Regions from separate parts of the Homo sapiens genome. Here region 2 is linked to region 1. The links come from fine-mapping of genetic effects on gene expression. Tissue or cell type: whole blood. Region 1 holds a variant in brackets; the other region holds the start of a gene. All regions are shown on one strand. Distances are from middle to middle. Region 1 overlaps NHSL2 (NHS like 2). Region 2 holds the start of RTL5 (retrotransposon Gag like 5).

The links. PIP is the estimated chance that this variant, and not a neighbour inherited with it, causes the effect.
Region 2: it holds the start of RTL5, and the variant in region 1 is the best candidate, but not a certain one, in a credible set for the expression of RTL5 in whole blood (TOPMed, PIP 0.79).

Annotation. Positions count from the first base shown.
Region 1 is chrX:72,095,677-72,101,048 of GRCh38, reverse strand. All of the region lies in intron 1 of NHSL2 (NHS like 2), which reads right to left. Among named protein-coding and RNA genes, the nearest start is that of RTL5, 34 kb to the left of the region's middle. The variant A/G (reference allele first, on the strand shown) is at 2,472.
Region 2 is chrX:72,129,034-72,134,405 of GRCh38, reverse strand. RTL5 (retrotransposon Gag like 5) reads left to right here and starts at 2,491. Exons shown (of 1, transcript NM_001405151.1): 1 at 2,491-5,372. The coding sequence starts at 2,866. The coding sequence ends at 4,575. NHSL2 (NHS like 2) reads right to left here. Exons shown (of 8, transcript NM_001013627.3): 2 at 2,172-2,327; 3 at 188-315. RefSeq lists silencers at 2,411-2,470, 2,631-2,700.

The sequences.
Region 1 (5,372 bases):
AAAAAAAAAAGGAAACAGGCATTGGGTTTTGAGTGTGATGAGACGCTGTGAACAGAGATGCCTCTGAAAGCAAAGAAAGGGGAACCTGTGACAGACCTCAGATAATCACCTCGTGAGCACTCAGGCTCTTTCTATATCTCTGTGGCCATGCTACGGCTTGTGGAAAGGCCAGGGCCATTTGTACAGCAATATGCCACATAATGGCATGTAAGTTAACACAGCAGTCCCCAACCTTTTTGGCACTAGGGACTGGTTTTGTGGAAGACAATTTCTCCACGGACTTGGGTGGGGGCATGGATTCAGGATGAAACTGTTCCACCTCAGATCATCAGGCATTAGTTAGATTCTTATAAGGAGCAAGTAATTGAGATCCCTCACATGCACAGCTCACAGTAGGGTTCCTGCTCCTATGAGAATCTAATGCCGCTGCTGATCTGACAGGAGGTGGAGCTCAGGCGGTAATGCTCGCCCGCCTGCCACTCACCTCCTGCTGTGTGACCCAGTTCTTAACAGGTCATGGACTGGTACGGGTCCATGGCCCAGGGGTTGAGGACCCCTGCTTAATGGACTGCATATATGACAACTGCATATATGACAGTGGCCCCATTAGATGATACCATAGTTTTGCTCTATCTTTTCTAGGTTTAGTTATGTTTAGATACACAGATAAGTACCATCGTGTTACAACTGCCTGTAGTATTCAGCACAGTCACGTGCTGTATGGGTTTGTAGCCTTGGAGCCATAGGCTGTACCATATAGCCTAGGTGTGCAGCAGGCTACACTATCTAGGTCTGTGTAAGTACACTCTATGATGTTTGCACAATGAGGAAATCACCTAATGACGCATTTCTCTCGTAGCGTATCCCCATTGTGAAGCGAGGCCTGACTGTACTTGGCTCGGCTGTTCTGGTCTGCACTCAACCAGCATACGTTGAATTTATTGGAGTCCACAAACCAAGACCCTGAGAAGCTTCATGAGTTGCCTTGAGTGGTGAAGTTGAGGATTTTGTCCTCAATGTCTGACCTTCTAATCCATTCCTACCAACCACAGAGACACACAGCTCAGGTGACATTTTGAATCTCTCTGCCTGCTCAACTTCCACTGTTCAATACGGTAGCCAGAAGCCACATGTGGCTCTTAAGCTCTTGAAATTGGCAGTCTGAACTGAAATGTGCTGGATGTGTAAAACATACACCAGATTTCAAAGACTGAATATGAAACAAAGAATGTAAAGTATCCCATTAATAATTTTTAATATTTGATTACATTGTAAGACACTATTTTTGATATATTGGAGTAAATTAAATATATTATTAAAATTAATTTCACCTTTTTCTTTTTACTTTTTAAATGTGGCTACTAGAAATGGGGATACTGGTGGCCGGCGTGGCGGCTCACGCCTGCAATCCCAGCACTTTGGGAGGCTGAGGTGGGTGGATCATGCGGTCAGGAGTTTGAGACCAGCCTGACCAATATGGTGAAATCCCATCTCTACTAAAAATACAAATAAAAAATTAGCCAGGTGTGGTGGTGGGGGCCTGTAATCCCAGCTACTCAGGAGGCTGAGGCAGGAGAATTGCTTGAACCCGGGAGGCAGAGGTTGCAGTGAGCCGAGAATGCACCACTGCACTCCAGCCTGGGTGACAGAGTGAGACTCCGTCTCAAAAAAAAAAAAAAAAAAAAAATTCCTACACAAGGGGATACTGGTGCCAAAATTGGCAAATAGATGAATGAAATAAAATAGTTCAAAACAAACTTATGTATATATGAGCATTTAGGATATAATAAAGGTGGCATTTCAAATCAGCTGGGGAGGGGAATGTAGCTACTAAGACAAAATTCAAAATTCCATAAGTGGCTGGCATTTGTGGCCCACATTATATTTCTATTGGATAGTGTGGTGCTAGACTTTCTATTTTACCTAAATGTCCATTAACAAGGGATGGGTTCCACACATCATGGTGCATCTACACAAGGGGATGATATGCAGCCATTAAGAAGAATGAAGGATATCTCTTTGAGTAGAAACTAGAAAACTGCAGAGTTATTGGTAAGTTGAAAAAAATGGGCAAGGAATGGGCCAGTATGTATTGTATGATCTCATTTGTGTATCAAAAGCACACAGATGCTTATATATGCACGGAATAAGTTTGCAAGGACACACAAGTAACTGTTATTCTAGATGATTTTGACATGTATGTTTCACTTGAAACTCTCCAGTACTATTTGAAATTTTAACAACAAACGTGTCATTTTACAATAACAAACCATTAAATATATTTATTTTCATATATTTAAAAATAACATATAATGGTTTACGTAACATAAAACTATTAAAATAAAAAATAAATAAAATAAAATTTTAAAAATCAGAGTTTCTATTATTCAATTCATAGCTTTATTTCTATTCCTCCACTTGTAAACACCCCTTTCAACTTCTTCTCTCTTTCTTTTTTTTTTTTTTTTGAG[A/G]CGGAGTCTTGCTCTGTCACCCAGGCTGGGGTGCAGTGGCGCAATCTTCGCTCACTGCAAGCTCCGTCTCCCGGGTTCACGCCATTCTCCTGCCTCAGCCAGCTGAGTAGCTGGGACTACAGGCGCCCGCCACCACGCCCGGCTAATTTTTTTGTATTTTTAGTAGAGACGGGGTTTCACCGTGTTAGCCAGGATGGTCTCGGTCTCCTGACCTCGTGATCCACCCGTCTCGGCTTCCCAAAGTGCTGGGATTACAGGCGTGAGCCACCGCGCCCGGCCAACTTCCTCTTTCTTATTCCTCCCTTTCTGTCCTATTCTTTCCAAACCTTCTCTTTCCTCTCTCCTTCAAAACCCACAAGGGTCTATGAATGAGGAGCCATTCCACTTCTGTTGGCTCCCCTTGCTCAACTGCTGCCTCTGTCTTCCCGCCAAGGAAGAGCCTGAGGAAGGGCACCATGTTGGTTGGGTACTGCTCGATTCCAGACACAATAATCAAAGATGGCCGCTGTGGAGAAAGAGACCTACCTAGTGGAAATACATCCTACCATTTCTTCCTAGCAATTTTGCCACATTCATGTTAAGAGAGGGCTACACAGAAGAGAGGACAATAACTCAGTAAATTGTGTCTGTGTGTTTTTTTCTTTCCTGGTTCAAGGGTGGGTGGAGGCAGGGTAAATGCAGGAGGCACTGGAGAGAAGGTTTGGTCCATGTTTGGGAAACCAATTTAATTGCCACCTGCAGTTAAAAATCACTAAGAGGGTTTAAGTGTTTTGAAAAGAGAACTATAGCGGTTGGAGAAAGGAAAAAAGCTCTCCAGCTTCTGGAAAACAGGTATAACAAGAGATGTGTTTGCTCCAGGGCAGATGGGAACCTCAGTCCTTAGAGTTTAATTGAGAGAGGAAGAAAGACAAGAGGTCTCAGCAGACTGTCAAGCAGATAATAGCTTCCGAAGGGTGGGTCTGCAAGAACTGAGAAATGAAAGACCTGTTGATGTGTGTAGGGGACAAGTGGTGTGGGAAAATACCAAATTTTCTTTTACACTCCTTCTCAATGCAAATGGAATAAATTCTTTAGAATAAAGAAGGGTTTTGAATGTCTGTTGGAACTTTTTTGTTTATCACAGAGAGACCTTCCCCTCCCCCTTCTCCCCCAAAAAGTTAAGAACCTGGCAGTGCAATCAGTAGCAGGAACACTGGACGGGGAGTCAGGAGACAGCCATGGTCCTGAATTTGCAGAATATGACAACAAATGATATATGTGAAATTCCCCTGGAAGCTGTAAAGCATAGTTAACTGCGGTTAAGTGTGGTTAACTGTTATGAAACTTAAGTTTGTCTGTGGCCCTTCCCATTTCTTCCCCTTTTGGGCCCTCTTCTCTTCCAACCTGTTGGTACAAAAACTACTGGGCCCAAGGTTTGAAAGGAATCCAATTCAAAGAACATATGTTGGTCCCAGAAGAGATCACCTAGACTGAAGAACGTTTTCAGCATCCTAAGTTAATGGTAACTCAGCTATTTTTAAAGTAATATCCCATTCAAAAATTGGAGGGCTAGGAAGAGATTTGTTAAATTATACAAAATTACAGCTGGGGAGGAGGAAAAAGTTCTAGTGTTCTATGCCATTGCAGGATGACTATAGTTAAAAATCACGTATCATTTCTAGGCATGGTGGCATGTGCTTGTAGTCCCAGCTACTCGGGAGGCTGAGGCAGGACGATCGCGTGAGCCCAGGAGTTTGAGTCCAGCCTGGGCAACACAGTGAGACCCAGTCTCTAAAAGAAGAAAGAATTAAAAAACCCAAATGATAATATATAGTTTCAAATAGCTAGAAGGAGGATACTGAATGTTCCCAACACAAAGAAATGATAAATGTTTGAGATAATGGGTATGCTAATTACCCTGATCTGATCACTATACATTATCTGTATACCCCATGTATATGTACAAATAATTACATTTGTCAATTTTAAAACAACTTAAAAATTGGAAGCAAACAATTTACCTTTAAGAGGAATTCTGCGTTCAACATAAAGCTAGAATGCCATATATTATCCTATACAATTTTTAAGTACTAAATGCTTTTTTCAGATTAAGTCTAGCAAGCTGATTTCTGGACTGAAGGACTGACATCATACTGCTCTACAGAGGCGAGATAAGGAGAAATGGACCCTCCATACATTGTACCTCACCAGCCTTGGGATTGGCTTTATGGGCTCCAGTGGCCCAAGTCCTGGGGACACAGTTAGCTAAAATATCTCCTTGCCTCTTCCTCACTCCCAAAAGTTAGTCCGTCACCAAGTTCCGTTGATTCTACTTACCAAATCTGTCCAGAATCTGGCCATTTCTTACCATCAGCACTGCCACCACCCTAGACCAAGCCACTATTGCAGGCAGAAGTCTCCTAAGTGGCCTCCCAGCCCCCTCTCCTGCCCTCTGGCTCTACGAAGCAGCCACAGTCAGCTTTTTAAAAGAGCAGCCCTACTGCATCTCCCTTCTGCTTGGACCTCGGATGAGGAGATCTTTGGCTAATATGTCTACCCCTGTGACCTGAAAGCTCAGGGTGCCAGCAGGAACCCTGTCTGTTTTGATGACCACTGTAATCTCAGGCCTGGCCTCATGCCTGGCATGTAGTAGACACTTATTTGTTGAATGAAGGAATGGATTTTAGCAGTGCACATTTGTACAGTGCTTTAAAGGTAACAAAAACTTCATTTGATGCTCAGAATAACCCTGTCATAACCCTGTGTTATTGCTCTCATTTTGCAGATGAGGAAATTGAGGCTCAGAGCATTGCCTATGTTGGCAGAGTTAATGCAGAGCATATTGAAATCCAGGTCTATGGGGGTCAAAAGCCCATGCCTTTCTGGCTAAACCCCTCAGAGAGCTACGGGAGTGTGGAGGGC
Region 2 (5,372 bases), 33 kb before region 1:
AGGCAGGAAAGCGTGGACAGGCCACCAGGCCAGGCACCTGCTGTGCAGGGCCTATCCCAGTGGGGCCTCAGGGTAGCTCTGCTGGTGAGCAGGGCTGAGCAGCTTCCAGTGGGTAAAGTAAGCAGCTGGAGGTCTCTTGTCAGTGGGTGCATGCTGGCTCTCCCAGGTGGGGGATGAGGCAACTCACCATCAATATAAACTCCAGACGCCTGGCAGACTGGGGCCTTGGGTTGGGGGTGGGCTTAGTGGCCTCATCAGAAGAGCGGAAGGTCTGCCCCACAAGTCTGGCCTCCGAGTACTGTTCCTCATATTCTTCTGAAAAATAGCACAGTGGAGACACACACTCTAGGGTGCCATGGCCGAGCGCTGGGCCGGGGAAGGGCCATGAGCCAGGACTCCTGCTCTAGCTGCCAGGCCTGACTTGCATTTTCTTTAGGCTATTTCCAGGTGTTTGAGCCACTGGATTTGGAAATGGAAAAGTGCTTGCTTCCCAGGACCATGAGGATCGAGGAGAAGAGAAAGTCAATAAATTCATGCTGTGGTGGTTTGGGGACCAAGCCCTTATCTCAATGATCCCCACCTTGAGTGCTCAGTTACGAAAAGAGGCTCAGAATGCAGACACCTTTTGCTACTTTGGACTGCAAGTTCCTCTCTTTGAAGCCCTGCAGCTCTTAAGGTTTTCTGCGACCCTACCAAGGAAATGACCTGTGTGAAGCAAGAAGAGATTTACACCAGGAAGTCCAATCTGGAGTTCTTTCTTGGATGTCAAGAACTTTTACTTGAGCCTTTGTGGGCCGTGTTCCCTGCACCTTAGTCCCGCTGTAAGTGATGTCAGGTCTAGGAGGGCTAAGGTGAAGGAGAGGGAAGGAGGAGGTAACAGCATAAAAGAGGCAGAAGTTCAGCGGCATCATCAGTGAGTAAGGATGCACAAGATTTGAATAGGGTTGATTGAAGTGATGAATTTGATGAGAATACATGAAGAAAGTGAGAGTAGAGAAGGGACATTCATGCTGTATGTACACTGAACAAAGACTCAGAATCACAGAGATTTGGGGTTGCTCTTGGGGTTCTTTGGTCCAACGCCTCATTCTGTGCCCAGACTCCCTCCTCAGCAGCCCTTCTAGGTGTTTCTTCAGCCTCAGCGCACACACCTGCAGGGAAGGGGAGCTCCCTCCCTCCCAAGGCAGCTCATTTCTTCCACGGACAGTTGGGGCTGTCAGGTGTGTCAGAAAGTTCTTCCTTATCTGGAGGTGGAATGTGCCTCCTTCTGGGTTTCCACCCACTGGTCCTAATTCTGCCATGGTAGCAACACAGAGCACATCGACTCTTTTTCTGTGTGGCAAGTCCTTTGTTATCTGAACACAAGGCTCATGGTGTCCCTTGGCATCTTGCTTTTCCAAGGTCACCACTGCCCTGGTAGGGGGTGGGGGTTATGGCTGTCATCCTGTTGGTGGCCCATCAGCAGTTTTCTATTCGCCATTAGAGTTAACCTTTATTAGTATAGATAAAGGAGTGCTGACAAGACCTCTTTTCATGCTCAACATCCACTGAGCACCTCTTGGCAGGTGGGGAGGGAATCCAGCCTTGTGCCAGGTGCTTCTGGAAACCTAAGGGTAGCAAGATGTGATTCTTTACATCGAGAAGCTCAGGCTTGGTTAGGGGGGACAAAATAGGTGACCTCTGGGTGCTGTGTATTGGGCTTACTTTGGTGAGGCAGTAGCTATCCAGGGGTTATTGCAAGAGCAGAGTGAGTGAAGCCCAGAGTGGGAGATCCTGCAGATGCCCCCTTTGTCTTCTGGTGCCAGGATCCCAAAGGCATGGGCGATGTGGCAAGAGGGGGGCTGGAGGGAATGTAGGCCCACATTGTGGGAGTCTCCCACCCAGCTCTCGGTGAATGGCATAACTTATGGCCCTGCCTCAGTCTCTGTCCTTGTTTCCCCATGGGCTACTGAGCTGAAAAAAGGGGCTGGGGATGGGGGGAAACAGCCCTGGAAATAGCCTCTTTCAGAATCATTAGGCTGAAAGGTGAAAGCTGGAAACTGCTTTGTCGATTGTTTTTAAACTCTCTGTCTTTATCTTGCTGGTCCCTGTCCTCTTTCTTCTTTGCCTCCCTCCTGCCGCTGCGCATCTCGCTTCTGGGCTCCGGCCGCAGCCCCCCTCCCTCTCGGTACCTTGCAACAGGCTCTGGAGATTGAGCTGCGCCTCCCGAAGCAGCTCCTCTACACTCGGGGGCCTGCCCGAGGAGAGGAACACGTTCACTGGCTGTCGCCATGACGACCTCGAGTGGGCAGTCGCTGTCGCATTTTCCCGACCCGAGTTAGCTGCAGCTAGGGAAGGAGAGAGTCAGTGAGAGGCGCAGGCGAGCTGGAGGGGAGCGGCGCGCGGCGGCCAGTGGGCGCCCGCGGTTCCCCAAGGCCCGCCCCTGCGTGGGGTGGGGGGAGTGCGAGGCTGCGCTTAAAAGGCGGGGAATCGCCGGCCGCAAGATTTTTCCTCGACAGATCCTGCCGCAGTCCGCTCCCTCCCGCTCCGCTCGCCCCTGCCCGCCCGCCCGCCCGGTCGCGCGGTCGCCGCCGCCACCGTGTCGCCCGCATCCTCCGCCTGGCGCCTCCGGGCCCCGTGCCTCCGCCCGCCCTCTCCGGCCCCGGCGACGAGGTAACGCGCCCTGGGCCGAGCCGCCGGGCCCTCCGCCCAGAGCGCCGCCCTCCGAGCTCGCCCCGGTGGGTGTGGCCCGGCCTGGCCCGTGCCCCGCTGCCGCACTTCGGTCCCTCCCGAGCCCCGCCGCCGCATTTCGGCCTCCTCCGGCCGCCCGTAGTTCCAGTTCCCCTTTCCCCACCACGGAGCCCCAGGGCCCCTGGGCTTGTCGAGATGTCTGAGGCGTCAGGAAATCTCAACAGCCTCCGCATGGCGAATGTGGCCCTGCGCGAAGAATTAAATGCCCTTCGCGGGGAGAATGCCAATTTGGGCCTCCAGCTCGGGAGAGCCCTGGCCGAGGTTAATTCCTTGCGGGGCAATGTCTCCAGCTACATCCGCTGGCCAGTACCCATAGTGCCCGTCCTTGCGGAGGAGAACTTGGAGTTCGCGCTCAGTGAGATCGAAGTCATTCCCGGGGGAGAACTGCCCTTCTTGTGCCGGCCTCCCCCACGCGCGGAGCCCGACTGTATCTCGGATGATCTTTTGATTAACGTGATCCAGGATCGCAGCACCCCCGACGGGCCCGCTGACCCCCCTCTGCTGCCCATCCCGCCCCCGCCGGCGCTGCCTCCGCCCGCGTCAAAGGAACCGCCCCCGCAACCCCCTCTGGCACCGCTGGAGCGGCCTGAGATAGAGCCCTTTTCAGGAGACCCAGTCTACCTGGCTGAATTCCTGATGCAGCTAGAGACCTTCATAGCCGACCATGAGGTTCATTTCCCCGGGGGCGCCGAGCGGGTGGCCTTTCTGATCTCCTTTTTCACTGGCGAAGCCAAGGACTGGGCCATCTCGGTCACCCAGGAAGGAAGCCCCTTGCATGCCAACTTCCCGCGCTTCCTGGATGAAATCCGTAAGGAATTCTGTGGCCCCATCCCCCCACGTGTGGCTAAAAAGGCCATTCGCAAGCTCAAGCAGGGCCACTGTACCCTCGGCAGCTATGCAGATGCTTTTCAGTTCCTGGCCCAATTCTTGTCTTGGGATGACTGCCGCCTCCAAAACCAATTCCTCAAAGGCCTGTCGGAATTCTTCCGCAAAGAGCTCTTATGGTCAACAGAAATGGCCGACCTGGATGAGCTGATTCTCGAATGTGTGGAGATAGAAAGAAAAGTGCGCGTTCCCAAGCCTATCCCGCTCCCTGGAGTTCGAAATATCATCTTCCCTTTTGCTCCGAGTCCCAATGAGGAAGAAAGTGAAGATGAAGAGTACTACAGTGAAGATGAAGACCAAGAGGCACGCAGGCACAGGCTTCACTCCAAGGACCAGAGGAAGCGCATGAGGGCTTTTCAGCAAGAGATGAAGGAGAAGGAGGAGGAGGAGATGAAGAAGGAGGAAGAAATGAAGAAGAAGGAAGAGAAGGAGGAGGAGGAGGAAGAGGAAATGAAACAGAAAGAGGAGGAGGAGGAGATAAGGAACAAGAATGAGGAGGAAGGAGAGAGTAAGGATGAAGAAGATGAAGATGAGGATGGGGGCCAGAAACCAGAAGGAGAGCCACAGCAGGATCCAGGGACTGAGGAGACCTATGGTGAGGTGGAGGAGGAGCCACTGGATGAGGCCCAAGATGATGACCTAGATGAGCTGATGGAGATGGAGCCGACCTTTGTTCACGCGTCATCCCAGACTTCTGGCCCCACAAGTGGTTACCACGCCGAAAACTTCCTGGGTGCATCACCTCCCATAATACAGCCTAGCAGACGGAGGAACCAGAATCGAGTCCCACTTCTGGAAGGCCTTCCAGGCACCAATTCACCATTCTACAGCTCCCCCCAACTGATTCGCCGCACAGGTCGTTTAGGACAACGCCAAGTTCGAAGACGCCCCCCTGTGCTTTTCCGCCTCACTCCGAGACAGGGGGGCCACCGAGCTGCTCGTGGCCGAATTCGAGTTTGAGTGCTGGGGCCAGATGGCCACCCAGAACACACCCTTCTTTTGCATCCCCCGCCCCTGCTATTGCTGCCATACCTGCCCCATTTGCTGACCAGGACTTCAGGGAGTTTCAGACCTGCAGAACCTGAAGAAGACCTGCAGAATTCCAGACCATCTTGCAACCGTGACCAGAGAGCGACGTGTGCCCAACCAGGGCCACCTGGGAAAGGAGGGATCAGCAATAGCTGCCCTCTTGGCATGTACTCTGCTCAGTCCGGCCACGAGCTGGAGAGCAAGTTTCTGGGCCTGTTCCCATAAATGAACTGGTCACCCTCTTGTATTTCCCCTCTGGTTGTTCCTAACCCTCACCTCTCCTGCGTTTCTTCACCCTATGTTCTACAGTTTTATTCTCTGACTGACCCACCAGGACTTCACCCAATGCCTCACTGATCTGCCCCAATGAGCAAGAGGACAGGCTACCCTGAACTCCTAAAGCCACTGAGGCCAGTTGCTAGATATAATCGATGGTGAGCAGGATGGTATCCAGAAATGTCCCTAGAATCCTACACTCATTTCATGCCACACCTCCAGCAGAGGGCCTGGAAGAGGACCCGACATCTAGCCCAGTGAGAGTGTGCAAAGCCACATGTCAAATGGACAACTTGACGGAGATTTGCCCTTGACTGACTGTGCAGGCTGGTTCCACTTACAGCACTTGAGTTTACCTTTGCACAGATTCCTGTATCAGGGCTCTTGGACTGACTTGCCACACATCTGGAGCCCTTTCCTCTCACCACATTGCCCTCCTGGGCACCCCCGGT